Linked DNA regions of Homo sapiens: region 1 is linked to region 2. The links come from fine-mapping of genetic effects on gene expression. Tissue or cell type: whole blood. Region 2 holds a variant in brackets; the other region holds the start of a gene. All regions are shown on one strand. Distances are from middle to middle.

What was found. PIP is the estimated chance that this variant, and not a neighbour inherited with it, causes the effect.
Region 1: it holds the start of SLC44A5, and the variant in region 2 is fine-mapped to the expression of SLC44A5 in whole blood (TOPMed, PIP 0.97).

The regions. Positions count from the first base shown.
Region 1 is chr1:75,606,648-75,614,757 of GRCh38, reverse strand. SLC44A5 (solute carrier family 44 member 5) reads left to right here and starts at 3,644. Exons shown (of 24, transcript NM_001130058.2): 1 at 3,644-3,718.
Region 2 is chr1:75,382,441-75,390,550 of GRCh38, reverse strand. All of the region lies in intron 3 of SLC44A5 (solute carrier family 44 member 5), which reads left to right. Among named protein-coding and RNA genes, the nearest start is that of SLC44A5, 220 kb to the left of the region's middle. The variant T/G (reference allele first, on the strand shown) is at 4,270.

The DNA.
Region 1 (8,110 bases), 220 kb before region 2:
AACACAATGGGCCCAATGACCTGGGAGGCAGCGACTTACTGAGCCTTTGGGGTTATATAAAAAAGGACAGGAACTCAGATGAGAACTGAGGGGTGAAGGGTATTACTGAATACATTGGCTTGGACTACAGCAGCGCTCAGGCTTTGGCGTGCTTTTTGCTTTTCCTCCCAAGTCTGGCTTGTGGGAGCTTAGCTCCGCTCTAGAGGTCACTAGGGGGACACAACTTTATCTTGGCGCGTCAGCTTGCTTTTTAATTGCTCCGGAGTACTCAAAGCACTTACTGGAAAGCGTTTAAAATCATGATCCTTAATTCTTAAGAAGACATTACTATGAAAACACCTGGGACTTTTTGTTGTTAAAAATTATAACCTATGTATGACAATTTTATTGCAATGCCTTTTCTTAAAATATTATAGCTCCTGTAAAATTAGAGGGGCTTTAAACCTCTGATTCCCCCCCTCCATAAATTAGCGCATGGGTATAGAGATACACGAGTAAAGAAAGAAGAGAGAATATATTCACCTACAAACAGATTCCTCTCTTTATCATAATATCAAATAATTAGTCTAAGCCCAGATTGACAAGGCGTATGAGCTACACTTTTGGTTCGCTCCTTTTTTATGGAGCCATATGGCACGATGAGTGAAACAGAAGGATTGGTTTTCAGCACTGCTGATGTGGCTATCCATTGGCAGAAATACATTTCATTCCCACCCCAAACCTTGCAGATTGTAAATGGTCCATGAAGAGTGGAAAAAATTTTACAGTTTTACAGTACATGGTAGCCAGAGAAAATCTTACCCTTGAAATTAATAATCTTGGCAGAAGCACAAAAAGATACAATTAGATTGATGAAATGAGCTCATATAAGAGATTTGATGAAAAAGACACCTCCCCTTTATTCTTCCGTCCCCTCAAAACACCAAAAAGTTTTTGTTTTGTAGGTCAGTATGGAATCATTTGTATTTTCTTGAATAAGTTTAATTTGATAGTGAAATAATTGAAGAATAGCAGTTAAGTGTTAACAGTTTCTCTGGAAGGATTAATAATCAAGCTTTCTTACGACATGTGGTCTCAATAAATTTTATGTAGTACTTTAAAAATAAGGTTTTCTCATGCTACATGTTTTTCTTAAAGGAAAAGTTATGTTACTTAGCTCCTATCAACTTGTGTTGAGTTGTTCTTGTTTTTTAAAACAAGTTCATTTAGTATTTCACAGAAAGAAGGACACCTTTAAAAACAAATCCTTGGAGTTTCACTTTAGCGAAGCAGGATGAATTGTGATATTTGATAGATGACAGAAGCAAACCCAGAAAGTTGTAATCTATTGACTTGCCTCAATTTTGCCTTTTAAGAGGAGAGCTCTACAAAAGCATCTGACTGCAGGCTTGCTGAACTGCTCTCAGATGTCTGCTTCTAAGCTACAACCAACTAAACTGGGACTGCCTGGTAGGAAAAATTTCTAGGCTTTATTGGCAGGGGCAGGCTACTGGGGTGAACTTTGCTGGATAAAACACTGTAGATTTAGCAATATTCCATGCTGTGTTGGTTATTCTCTTACAAGAGCTGCTTCTCTGCTTAGCTACACCGCATGCAGGGAGAGATCATTCGTCGGATCTTGTGACAGGCAAGTTGCTCATTGGCTTCTGAAGTCCTAGCAAGAGAGACTATCCATAAGCCTAGAAATTGGCCAAAGAGAAATGCAGTTTCTTAACATTGATAGAAGAATAAGATCTGTTGGCAGGATTTCTCAAGGGACATTAGCATTCATTTGTGACATCTCATCAAAAGGACAGTCTTTCAGAAAGGCCAATGGAATCTTTTACAATCCAATATTGATAATGTTTTTAACGAAAAAATGCTATAGTTCATAATCAATACAAGTCTTATAAATGCAAGCTGGTTACATTGGTTATAATCACGTCACCACCCCCACCCCTGCCTTTTCCAATATTAGTACAACAAAGACTTCTTGCTCAATTACTTAAGTGTAAAACTTATGTTTAGGTTAATTTATTCATTTATTCATTTAGCACATATTTATTGAGCACTGAATATGTACCAGATTCTGTGCAAAACACTAGGGATACGGTAATGAACATGATAGACAATGAAGTAAGAGGAGGCCTGGAAGAAGCAGGTGACAAATAATATGAACCAGAAAATTTCACATAGTGATTAATACCAGGAGAAATAAAACAAAGTGATGTGCGAGCAAATGATTTTGAGGTTACTTTAGATTGTCTGGAAAGGTGGCATTTGTGTCGGGAAACAAGTGATGAAGAGTAATTTGCATGCCAAGAACTGGAACATAACACTTCAGGCCTTAAGGTAGAAATGAGGTGGTAGCTTGGCACATTCACATACAAAAGGAAGAGGTGTAATGTGTAAGGAAGAGACAGTTAGGGAGAAGCCAGGCCTTTTTGGTCATAAAAAGGAATATAGAGTTTAAGTGCAATGAGAAGCCATTGGATATTCACTTGCTATTTGGGGATACATTCCTCTCCTGGAAGATTATTTCAGGGAGAGGAGCATTCCTACATCAACTCCCTAGGCCAACTAAGGTGACCTAATAGACTTCACTTTTCTAAAAGGTCCAGTTATACTCACGTTATTTTCTCTTGCTATTCACCAGAATACCTATGCAATTTCAGGCTGAGATATTGATAGCATCTCTAGGAATCCCTGCTTAGAAAACAATTCTAGAGAGAATGAGGATTAATTTAACATTTAGTACAAGATGATAAGATTAGTCACTTCCCTGGCAAGCCTTTCAATGCAAGTAAGTCTTAGGAAAAACATATTGTAATGGTAGAGGGGGATTCTGAGGGGTCCAGAACATGACTGTGCAGTAGGCAGAATGTGGAAGGCAGCATGAGGGGCTCCTAGATAACAGAAAGGGGTCCACAGAAGGAGAAGAGTGATGTTTGGAAGGGGACATGAGAAAGCCTCTAAAACAACATCAGCCAATTCGTGATTTTGCCAAGTGGAAGCCTGATATGAGCATGTTCCAAGAGAAACATTCTCATTCAAACACAGAAAAAGTTTAAACCAGGGTACTTTTATGCTTTTGACTGATCTTTTTATAATGAAGCATTTGTAACAATAAAAGCACACAGATGTTTACAAAGTCTCTTTGATTTTACTTAATCACTGTCAGGTTGTTCTGATGGATTACAGACCTCACAAATGAAAATAGCATGAACATATTAATGATAACTGCTGTTTGTTGGAGGTAGTTGCTTGATAGCTAGTTAAGGAAATCATGCTCTTGGGTCTCATTTTACTGTAGAGATGTTGGTAAGTGGGATATGGGGTATATTGGATGATTTTCTTTCCCCTAAGCATTTGTGACAAGAAGGTGCTATGATATTCAGGAAAGACACAAATAATAGTAGATTATTTTAAAGGTAATCATGGCCTACTTCCACCTCCAAACTACCTACTTCTTTGCCAAGGATTAACAATGAAAAAATATACTATAGCTCCAGGACTTTGTTCAGTCTCCTCCCCCTCTTTATACTCCAAGTGACTCCTTTGAGGCTAGCAAGGCTAGTAGGACCTCAGGGATTACCTAAGAATGGGGTATGGCCCTTAGTGATACTGGAACACAATGTGTTTATGACATCAGCTTTTTTTTCACAGTAGTGAATCGTAGCATGTTAGAGTTAGAAGGTTCAGTGTTGATGGAGTTATTGAAGAAATGATGGAGTAAGAGGTGAGTGATACTGCTAAATGCAAGAAGTCTATGTCTGTAGGAAAATTGGTCAAGTTTGTTATTCATAAGTACGTATTCTATACAACTCAAGAAATACACACACACACACACATATATATAGTGAAGTCTGAATATAAATTAGGAACTGAGCACTTCCTCTCCGTGTGTGTGTGTGTATATATATAGATATCCTGGGGGATTATTTAAAGAGAGTAGTATTTTTACATCAGCTCCCTAGGCCAAGTAAGGTGACCCAATGGACTTCACTTTTCTAAAAAGTCCAGTTACACTTATGTATCTTCTCTTAATATTCACCAAAATATCGACAATATTTCGGGCTGAGATGTTGATAACATCTCTAGGAATCCTTACCTACTGGTATTCACACCTGTTCATACTCCCCTTCCAAAATGAATCACAGCTGACCATGTGATCAGTACTGTACAGCAGAAAACTACATCATAAAGACATACACTATGGCTTCTGCCTTGTTCTTTTGTATTCTTTGCTTTCTTATGTTGCTCATTTTGGGGAAACCAGATGCCATGTTTTAAAAATACTCAAGGATCCCTTGGATTATTTTTTGAAGCAGAGGTTCATACAGATATTATTAACATTTCAGCCCAAAATATTGTCGGTATTTTGATGAATAGTAAGAGAAGATACATAAGTATAACTGCACTTTTTAGAAAAGTGAAGTCCATTGGGTCACCTTACTTGGCCTAGGGAGCTGATGTAGAAATATTGCTCTCTCTAAATAATTCTCCAGGATATCTATGTGTATATAGGTATATGTATGTATATGTATATACCTATGGAGAGAGAAGAAGAGCTCAGTTCCTAATTTATATTCAGACTTCACTATGTGTGTGTGTGTGTGTGTGTGTGTGTGTGTGTGTGTGTATTTCTTGACTTGCATAGAAGTCTTGAATCTTAGCTCTGTGTGGGAAGAACTGAGGCCTCCTGCTAATAGCAACAACTTGCTAGTTATGTGAGTGATCTATCTTGGGAACAGACCCTGCAACCAAGTCAAGCCTTCAGATGACTGTAGCTTCAGCCAACATCTGACTGAATTTCATGATAGCCCCGACCCAGAGCTATCCAATCAAGCTGCTTCTGGATTCCTGAATCACAGAAACCATAAGATATAATAAATGCTTACTCTTGTCTTAAACCACTAAAATTTGGGGGTAATAGGTTACATAACATTAGATCATGAATATACCTGTGGTTCATTATTTTTGCACCTCTATCATGAAATGTAATATTTGTTACTAGTTCCAACACTGATCTTGAATCTTAGCCCTCTTTCCTATTTAGTGAATTGGGCTGAAACCCTGAAGTTCTCTTTTCTTGTTTCCCTTGAGTTTCTTGTAGCAGCTTGCTTTCTCCTCTGCTTTTTTGAGTACTGATTCCTGGCTCCTCTAGTTCATTTAGTTTAGAAGATACTTTCCAAATTGAAGCACTACCGAACCAAAAATCAGAGTGATAAAGAGAATACAAAAGCCCTAAAATCTCCCAACAGCACAAGATTTCACAGTCCTCCAAACTAAGAAGATAGAAAGTTTCTTAAAATCTACAATCTTTTATTCTCACCATCAAAAATAAGAATGTAAGGTAATGAATATGTTAAATAGCTTGATTTAGCCATTCCACAATGTGTATATATATCAAAACATCAGGTTTCACACCATAAATATATAAATTTTTACTTGCCAATTAAAAAAGAAAAAACCCAAAGAAATGAAACCCTAAAATATTCAAATAAAAACCTTTCCAGCTGTATTTATCTATTCCTCCTTACCAAAGAATCCCTTCCTCCTCCCAGCCCAGTTAGTCCTTTGAGGTATAAATAGGAGACTGAGAAAGAGGATTTAAGAAAGGAAGGTTGCCGTCTCTTCTACTTGAGAGTAGGATATTAATCTATTTTATTCGTTCATGTAGTTCTCTATTCATTCAATAAGTGTTAATCAATCGCTTACTATGTACTGGGCACTATTCTAAGCATGCTTGGGATAAATCAGGGAACAAAATGAATTCTTCATGAGGTTTACACTATACATAGGGAAGACAAACAATGAATAATAAGCATGAATACATTGTTGATATTAAAAATTGAAAAGTGCCATGACAGAAAGAAAAAAAAATGAGCATAGTAAGGGGGATTTGGATTGCTAATCATGGGATGATGGTGGGCCAGCTGCAAGTATTAATAGGGTGGTTAGGGTAGGACCAATTGACGAGGTAATATTGAAGGACATGAAGCAGTGGAAGGGGAGGAGACTTCCAGAAGGAAGGAAAAGCCAGAGCAAAGACCCTACAGTGAAAATATACCTGGTATGTTTGACTAACAGAAAGAAGACCAAGTGGAATTAGTAAGGGGGATAGAAATAGAAAATGAAGTCAGAAAGATGAGGGAAGACTAAATTATATTAAACTTTTTAGAAAGTTTTAAGACTTTGGTTTTTACTCTGGGGAAATGTGGCACCAGTTCAGATTTTGAACAGAGGAAAAATATGATCTGACTTACATTTTAAAATAATTGCTACGGCGACTGTGTTGAGAATATCGAGCCAATATGTAGGGGTAATGAGAAACTAGAAGACTAGTAAGGAATCTTTTGCAATAACTCTTTAAAAATTTTCTTCTTCTGGTGGCTGAATAATACTCCATTGTGTACACACACAACACACACACACACACACACATACCCCTCACATTTTGTTTATCCATTCATCTGTGGATAGACACGTAGGTTGATTCCATATCTTTTTCTCTGGAAAAATATATTTTCAGTTCCTTTGCCTATTTTTAAGTTGGGTTATTTGTTTTTTTTTGTTTTTTGTTTTGTTTTGTTTTGTTTTTGCTATTGACTTACAACAACATGGATAAACCTGGAGGACTTTATACTAAGTGAAATCAACCAGGCACAAAAAGAAAAATACTGTATGATCTCACTTATATGTGGAATCCAAAATTATTGAACTCATAGAAGCAGTGAGTAGAATGGTGGTTGCCAAAGGCTGGGGGAGTGGGAGAAGTGAGGAGATACTAGTCAAACAGTACAAACTTACAGTTATAAGACAAGTTCTGGGGACATAATATACAGCATAGATAGTGATGGATATTGTATTAGTTTGTTTTCATGCTGCTAATGAAGACATACCCAAGATTGGGTAACTTATAAAGGAAAGAGGTTTAATTGACTCACAGTTCCACATGGCTGGTGAGGCCTCACCATCATGGCAGAAGGTGAATGAGGAACAAAGTCACATCTTACATGGCAGCATGCAAGATAGCATGTACAGGGGAACTCCCCTTTATAAAACCATCAGATCTCATGAGACTTACTATCATGAAAACAGCATGGCAAAGACCCACCCCCATGATTCAATTACCTCCCACTGGGTCCCTCCCATGACATGTGGGAATTATGGGAGTTACAATTCAAGATGAGATTTGGGTGGGGACACAGCCCAAACTATGTCAGATGTGTTATTAAATTTGGTTGTAATAATTATTTATTATACAACGTGTACATATACCAAATCATCATGTTGTACACTTTGAATACATACAGTCTTTATTTGTCAATTAATATTTTAAAATAAAAAGTTGCTTATAAAAAATAATTCAGTTGAGAGATGATAGTGGCATCTATCAGGGTAGAAGCAGTGGTGAACATGAGAAATGGAAGGATACTGAATATATTTTTAAGGTAGAACTTATATAATTTTAAAAACTAACAGGATGTTTCATGTGAGAGAAAGAAAGGAGTGATGGATTAATGCACAGTTTTTGACCTAAACAACTAAGAGAAGGTGGACTTGGCATCAACTACTATTTGAAGATTGTAGAAGGGGCAAGTTTATGGGGAAGGATCAGAAGTTTAGTTTTGGACACATTTGGGTTTGAAATATTTATTTGATATACAAGTGAAGATGACAAGTAGGAAGCTGGATATGTAAGTCTGGAGTCTTGGAGAGAGGCTTGGGCTGATCATATGAATTTGGAATTCATCAGAACATTGGTGGTATTTAAGATCACAGACTGGAAGACTCACTGGGAATTGAGTATAGATTGAGAGAAATGATCTGAGCCCAGGGCTGCTCCATTATTAAGAGATAAGTGAGAAGGGGAGGAGTCAGTAAAGGAGATTGAGAAAGAGCAACTGGTGACTAAGAAGTGGGTGTGGGGTCTTGGAACCAAGGAAGAAAGTGTATCAAGGAGGAAAATGATAATCAACAGTGTCAAACGCTGCCCATAGGTCAGGTAAGATCAGGGTTGAGAAATGGCCATTGTATTTATTAATATGAAAGTCATTGAAGACCTTAATTAATTAATATGAAAGTCAAAGACAGCCCAGGTGAAGTGGTGGCAATGATGCTTTGA
Region 2 (8,110 bases):
CTGTTGATGTGATGAGTCACATTTATTGATTCATGTATGTTGAACCAACCTTGCATCCCAGGAATAAATCTTAATTGATAGGATGAATTAGCTTATTGATGTGCTGCTGGATTTGATTTGCTCATTTTTTTTTTTTTTTTGTTAAGGATTTTTGTGTCTAAGTTCATCAAGGGTATTGGCCTGGAGTTTTCTTTGTTTCTTGTGTCTTTGCCAGATTTTGGTATCAGAATGATGCTGGTTTTGTAGAATGAATTAGGGAGGAGTCTCCTCTCCTTGATTTTTTGGAATAGTTTCAGTAAGATTGGTACCAGCTCTTCTTTATACACCTGGTAGAATTTGGCTCTGAGTTTGTCTGCTACAGGGCTTTTTTTGGTTGGTACATTTTTTGTTACTGGCTCTATTTCAGAATTCATTATTGGCCTGTTCAGTGTTTCAGTTTCTTCCTGATTAAATCTTGGGAGACTATGAATTTACCCATTTCCTCTAGATTTTTTAGTTTGTTTAGATAGATGTATTCATAGTTGTCTCTGAGGATCTTTTGTATTTCTATGGGATTGGTTGTAATGTCACCATTGTCGTTGGCATTGTGCTCATTTGAATTGTCTCTCTTTTTTTCTTTTTTAATCTAGCTAGTAGTCTATTGGCGTTATTTGTTTCTCCTTTCAAAGAACCAATTTTTTGTTTTGTTGATCCTTTTTAATGAATTTTGGCATCTCAATGTCAATTAGTTCTCTTCTGATTTTAGTAATTTATTTTCTTCTGCCAGCTTTGGGATTAGTTTGTTCTTGTTTTTCTAGTTCCTCTAAGTGTGATATTAGATTGTTAATTTGAGATTTTTCTAACTTCTCAATATAGGTATGTAGTGCTATAAACTTTCCTCTTAACACTGCTTTTGCTGCATCCCAGAGATTTTGCTATGTTGTGTCTCTCTTTTCATTTATTTCAAAGAATTTTTTTATTTCATTAATTTTGTTGGTTACCCAAAAGTCATTCAGGAGCTTACTTTTCATGTAGTTGTGTGGTTTTGAGAAATCCTCTTGGCGTTGATATATATTTTTATTCCACTGTGGTCTGAGAATATGTCTAGTGTGATTTCAGTTTTTTAAAATTTATTGAGACTTGTTTTATGGCCAAGAATGTGGTTGATCTTAGACTATATTCCATATGCACATGAGAAGAATGTATATTCTGTGGTTGTTGGGTAGTATCTTGTAGATGTCTTTTAGGTCCGGTTGGTCAAGAATTGAATTTAGTCCAGAATTTCTTTGTTAGTTTTCTGCCTTGATGATCTAACACTCTTAGTTAGGGTATTGAGGTTCTCCATTATTATTGGATGTTTAAGTCTTTCCATAGGTGTAGAAGTACCTGTTTTATGAATCTGAGTGCTCCAGTGTTGAGTGCGTATATATTTAGGGCAAATATGTCTTTTTTGTTTAAATGAACGCTTTATCATTATGTAATACCCTTTTTTTGTCTTTTTTTCTGTTGTGAGTTTAAATCCTGTTTTATCTCATACAAGAATAGCCACTCCTGCTCTTTTTCATTTCCTGTTTATTTGATAGACCTTTTTCTATCCCAAAAGTCATTCAGGAGCAATGAGCCTATAGGTGTTGTTACACATGATATGTGTCTCTTGAAGACAGAGAAAGGTTGGGTCTTTTTTTTAAAAGAAAAATCCAATTTGCCACTCTATGCCTTTTAGTGGGGTGTTTAGGCCACTTATATTCAAGGTTAATATTGATATGTGAGTTTTTGTTTGTTTTTTTTTTTTTTAGACGGAGTCTCGCTCTGTTGCCCAGGCTGGAGTGCAGTGGAGCGATCTCGGCTCACTGCAAGCTCTGCCTCCCGGGTTCATGCCATTCTCCTGCCTCAGCCTCCCAAGTTGCTGGGACCACAGGCGCCCGCCACCACGCCTGGCTAATTTTTGTATTATTAGTAGAGACAGGGTTTCACCACGTTAGCCAGGATGGTCTTGATCTCCTGACCTCGTGATCCACCCGCCTCGGCCTCCCAAAGTGCTGGAATTACAGGCATGAGCCACTGCACATGGACGATATGTGAGGTTTTGATCCTGTTGTGATGTTGTTAGCTGGATACTTTGTAGTCTCAATTGTGTAGTTGTTAGCTGGATACTTTGTAGTCTCAATTGTGTAGTTATTTTTTATAGGTTCTGTGGACTATGTACTTATGTGTTTTTGTGGTAGCAAGTATTATTCTTTTATTTCCACATTTAGAACTCCTTTAAGTGTCTCTTATAAAACTGGTCTAGTGGTAATGAATTTTCTTTTTTTTTTTTTAATACTGTTTTTTTTTGGATTTATTTATTTATTTATTTATTTATTACACTTTAAGTTTTAGGGTACATGTGCACATTGTGCAGGTTAGTTACATATGTATACATGTGCCATGCTGGTGCGCTGCACCCACTAACTCGTCATCTAGCATTAGGTATATCTCCCAATGCTATCCCTCCCCCCTCCCCCCACCCCACAACAGTCACCAGAGTGTGATATTCCCCTTCCTGTGTCCAGGTGATCTCATTGTTCAATTCCCACCTATGAGTGAGAATATGTGGTGTTTGGTTTTTTGTTCTTGCGATAGTTTACTGAGAATGATGATTTCCAATTTCATCCATGTCCCTACAAAGGACATGAATTCATCATTTTTTATGGCTGCATAGTATTCCATGGTGTATATGTGCCACATTTTCTTAATCCAGTCTATCATTGTTGGACATTTGGGTTGGTTCCAAGTCTTTGCTATTGTGAATAATGCCGCAATAAACATACGTGTGCATGTGTCTTTATAGCAGCATGATTTATAGTCCTTTGGGTATATACCCAGTAATGGGATGGCTGGGTCAAATGGTATTTCTAGTTCTAGATCCCCGAGGAATCGCCACACTGACTTCCACAATGGTTGAACTAGTTTACAGTCCCACCAACAGTGTAAAAGTGTTCCTATTTCTCCACATCCTCTCCAGCACCTGTTGTTTCCTGACTTTTTAATGATTGCCATTCTAACTGGTGTGAGATGGTATCTCATTGTGGTTTTGATTTGCATTTCTCTGATGGCCAGTGATGATGAGCATTTTTTCATGTGTTTTTTGGCTGCATAAATGTCTTCTTTTGAGAAGTGTCTGTTCATGTCCTTCGCCCACTTTTTGATGGGGTTGTTTGTTTTTTTCTTGTAAATTTGTTTGAGTTCATTGTAGATTCTGGATATTAGCCCTTTGTCAGATGAGTAGGTTGCGAAAATTTTCTCCCATTTTGTAGGTTGCCTGTTCACTCTGATGGTAGTTTCTTTTGCTGCGCAGAAGCACTTTAGTTTAATTAGATCCCATTTGTCAATTTTGGCTTTTGTTGCCGTTGCTTTTGGTATTTTAGACATGAAGTCCTTGCACAAGCCTATGTCCTGAATGGTAATGCCTAGGTTTTCTTCTAGGATTTTTATGGTTTTAGGTCTAACTTGTAAGTCTTTAATCCATCTTGAATTGATTTTTGTATAAGGTGTAAGGAAGGGATCCAGTTTCAGCTTTCTACATATGGCTAGCCAGTTTTCCCAGCACCATTTATTAAATAGGGAATCCTTTCCCCATTGCTTGTTTTTTTCAGGTTTGTCAAAGATCAGATAGTTGTAGATATGCGGCGTTATTTCTGAGGGTTCTGTTCTGTTCCATTGATCTATATCTCTGTTTTGGTACCAGTACCATGCTGTTTTGCTTACTGTAGCCTTGTAGTATAGTTTGAAGTCAGGTAGTGTGATGCCTCCAGCTTTGTTCTTTTGGCTTAGGATTGCCTTGGCGATGCGGGCTCTTTTTTGGTTCCATATGAACTTTAAAGTAGTTTTTTCCAATTCTGTGAAGAAAGTCATTGGTAGCTTGATAGGGATGGCATTGAATCTGTAAATTACCTTGGACAGTATGGCCATTTTCACGATATTGACTTTTCCTACCCATGAGCATGGAATGTTCTTCCATTTGTTTGTATTCTCTTTTATTTCCTTGAGCAGCGGTTTGTAGTTCTCCTTGAAGACGTCCTTCACATCCCTTGTAAGTTGGATTCCTAGGTATTTTATTCTCTTTGAAGCAATTGTGAATGGGATTTCACTCATGATTTGGCTCTCTGTTTGTCTGTTGTTGGTGTATAGGAATGCTTGTGATTTTTGCACATTGATTTTGTATCCTGAGACTTTGCTGAAGTTGCTTATCAGCTTAAGGAGATTTTCGGCTGAGACAATGGGGTTTTCTAGATATACAATCATGTCATC[T/G]GCAAACAGGGACAATTTGACTTCCTCTTTTCCTAATTGAATACCCTTTATTTCCTTCTCCTGCCTAATTGCCCTGGCCAAAACTTCCAACACTATGTTGAATAGGAGTGGTGAGAGAGGGCATCCCTGTCTTGTGCCAGTTTTCAAAGGGAATGCTTCCAGTTTTTGCCCATTCAGTATGATATTGGCTGTGGGTTTGTCATAGATAGCTCTTATTATTTTGAAATACGTCCCATCAATGCCTAATTTATTGAGAGTTTTTAGCATGAGGGGTTGTTGAATTTTGTCAAAGGCTTTTTCTGCATCTATTGAGATAATCATGTGGTTTTTGTCTTTGGTTCTGTTTATATGCTGGATTACATTTATTGATTTGCGTATATTGAACCAGCCTTGCATCCCAGGGATGAAGCCGATTTGATCATGGTGGATAAGCTTTTGGATGTGCTGCTGGATTCGTTTTGCCAGTATTTTATTGAGGATTTTTGCATCAATGTTCATCAAGGATATTGGTCTAAAATTCTCTTTTTTGGTGGTGTCTCTGCCCGGCTTTGGTATCAGAATGATGCTGGCTTCATAAAATGAGTTAGGGAGGAGTCCCTCTTTTTCTATTGATTGGAATAATTTCAGAAGGAATGGTAGCAGCTCATCCTTATACCTCTGGTAGAATTTGGCTGTGAATCCATCTGGTCCTGGATTCTTTTTGGTCGGTAAGCTATTGATTATTGCCACAATTTCAGAGCCTGTTATTGGTCTATTCAGAGATTCAACTTCTTCCTGGTTTAGTCTTGGGAGAGTGTATGTGTCGAGGAATTTATCCATTTCTTCTAGATTTTCTAGTTTATTTGCGTAGAGATATTTGTAGTATTCTCTGATGGTAGTTTGTATTTCTGTGGGATTGGTGGCGATATCCCCTTTATCATTTTTTATTGTGTCTATTTGATTCTTCTCTCTTTTTTTCTTTATTAGTCTTGCTAGCGGTCTATCAATTTTGTTGATCCTTTCAAAAAACCAGCTCCTGGATTCATTAATTTTTTGAAGGGTTTTTTGTGTCTCTGTTTCCTTCAGTTCTGCTCTGATTTTAGTTATTTCTTGCCTTCTGCTAGCTTTTGAATGTGTTTGCTCTTGCTTTTCTAGTTCTTTTAATTGTGATGTTAGGGTGTCAATTTTGGATCTTTCCTGCTTTCTCTTGTGGGCATTTAGTGCTATGTATTTCCCTCTACACGCTGCTTTGAATGTGTCCCAGAGATTCTGGTATGTTGTGTCTTTGTTCTCATTGGTTTCAAAGAACATCTTTATTTCTGCCTTCATTTCATTATGTACCCAGTAGTCATTCAGGAGCAGGTTGTTCAGTTTCCATGTAGTTGAGTGGTTTTGAGTGAGATTCTTAATCCTGAGTTCTAGTTTGATTGCACTGTGGTATGAGAGATAGTTTGTTATAATCTCTGTTCTTTTACATTTGCTGAGGAGAGCTTTACTTCCAAGTATGTGGTCAATTTTGGAATAGGTGTGGTGTGGTGCTGAAAAAAATGTATATTCTGTTGATTTGGGGTGGAGAGTTCTGTAGATGTCTATTAGGTCCGCTTGGTGCAGAGCTGAGTTCAATTCCTGGGTATCCTTGTTGACTTTCTGTCTCATTGATCTGTCTAATGTTGACAGTGGGGTGTTAAAGTCTCCCATTATTAATGTGTGGGAGTCTAAGTCTCTTTGTAGGTCACTCAGGACTTGCTTTATGAATCTGGGTGCTCCTGTATTGGGTGCATATATATTTAGGATAGTTAGCTCTTCTTGTTGAATTGATCCCTTTACCATTATGTAATGGCCTTCTTTGTCTCTTTTGATCTTTGTTGGTTTGAAGTCTGTTTTATCAGAGACTAGGATTGCAACCCCTGCCTTTTTTTGTTTTCCATTTGCTTGGTAGATCTTCCTCCATCCTTTTATTTTGAGCCTATGTGTGTCTCTGCACGTGAGATGGGTTTCCTGAATACAGCACACTGATGGGTCTTGACTCTTTATCCAATTTGCCAGTCTGTGTCTTTCCATTGGAGCATTTAGTCCATTTACATGTAAAGTTAATATTGTTATGTGTGAATTAGATCCTGTCATTATGATGTTAGCTGGTTATTTTGCTCGTTAGTTCATGCAGTTTCTTCCTAGTCTAGATGGTCTTTACATTTTGGCATGATTTTGCAGCGGCTGGTACCGGTAGTTCCTTTCCATGTTTAGTGCTTCCTTCAGGAGCTCTTTTAGGGCAGGCCTGGTGGTGACAAAATCTCTCAGCATTTGCTTGTCTGTAAAGTATTTTATTTCTCCTTCGCTTATGAAGCTTAGTTTGGCTGGATATGAAATTCTGGGTTGACAATTCTTTTCTTTAAGAATGTTGAATATTGGCCCCCACTCTCTCCTGGCTTGTAGGGTTTCTGCTGAGAGATCTGCTGTTAGTCTGATGGGCTTCCCTTTGAGGGTAACCCGACCTTTCTCTCTGGCTGCCCTTAACATTTTTTCCTTCATTTCAACTTTGGTGAATCTGACAATTATGTGTCTTGGAGTTGCTGTTCTCGAGGAGTATCTCTGTGGCGTTCTCCGTATTTCCTGAATCTGAATGTTGGCCTGCCTTGCTAGATTGGGGAAGTTCTCCTGGATAATATCCTGCAGAGTATTTTCCAACTTGGTTCCATTCTCCCCGTCACTTTCAGGTACACCAATCAGACGTAGATTTGGTCTTTTCACATAGTCCCATATTTCTTGGAGGCTTTGCTCATTTCTTTTTATTCTTTTTTCTCTAAACTTCCCTTCTCGCTTCATTTCATTCATTTCATCTTCCATTGTAGGGGTGGGTTGCCCCTACACACCTGTGGGTGTTTCTCGTAAGGTGGGACGAGAGATTTGGAAAAGAAAAAGACACAGAGACAAAGTATAGAGAAAGAAATAAGGGGAACCGGGGAACCAGCGTTCAGCATATGGAGGATCCCGCCAGCCTCTGAGTTCCCTTAGTATTTATTCATCATTTGTGGGTGTTTCTCGAAGAGGGGGATGTGTCAGGGTCACAAGACAATTGTGGGGAGAGGGTCAGCAGACAAACACGTGAACAAAGGTCTTTGCATCATAGACAATGTAAAGGATTAAGTGCTGTGCTTTTAGATATGCATACACATAAACATCTCAATGCTTTACAAAGCAGTATTGCTGCCCGCAGGTCCCACCTCCAGCCCTAAGGCAGTTTTTCCCTATCTCAGTAGATGGAGCATACAATCGGGTTTTATACCGAGACATTCCATTGCCCAGGGACAGGCAGGAGACAGATGCCTTCCTCTTGTCTCAACTGCAAGAGGCATTCCTTCCTCTTTTACTAATCCTCCTCAGCACAGACCCTTTACGGGTGTCGGGCTGGGGGATGGTCAGGTCTTTCCCTTCCCACGAGGCCATATTTCAGACTATCACATGGGGAGAAACCTTGGACAATACCTGGCTTTCCTAGGCAGAGGTCCCTGCGGCCTTCCGCAGTTTTTGTGTCCCTGGGTACTTGAGATTAGGGAGTGGTGATGACTCTTAAGGAGCATGCTGCCTTCAAGCATCTGTTTAACAAAGCACATCTTGCACCGCCCTTAATCCATTTAACTCTGAGTTGACACAGCACACGTTTCAGAGAGCACGGGGTTGGGGGTAAGGTTATAGATTAACAGAATCTCAAGGCAGAAGAATTTTTCTTAGTACATAACAAAATGGAGTCTCCTATGTCTACTTCTTTCTACACAGACACAGTAACAATCTGATCTCTCTTGCTTTTCCCCACATTTCCCCCTTTTCTTTTCGACAAAACCGCCATCGTCATCATGGCCCGTTC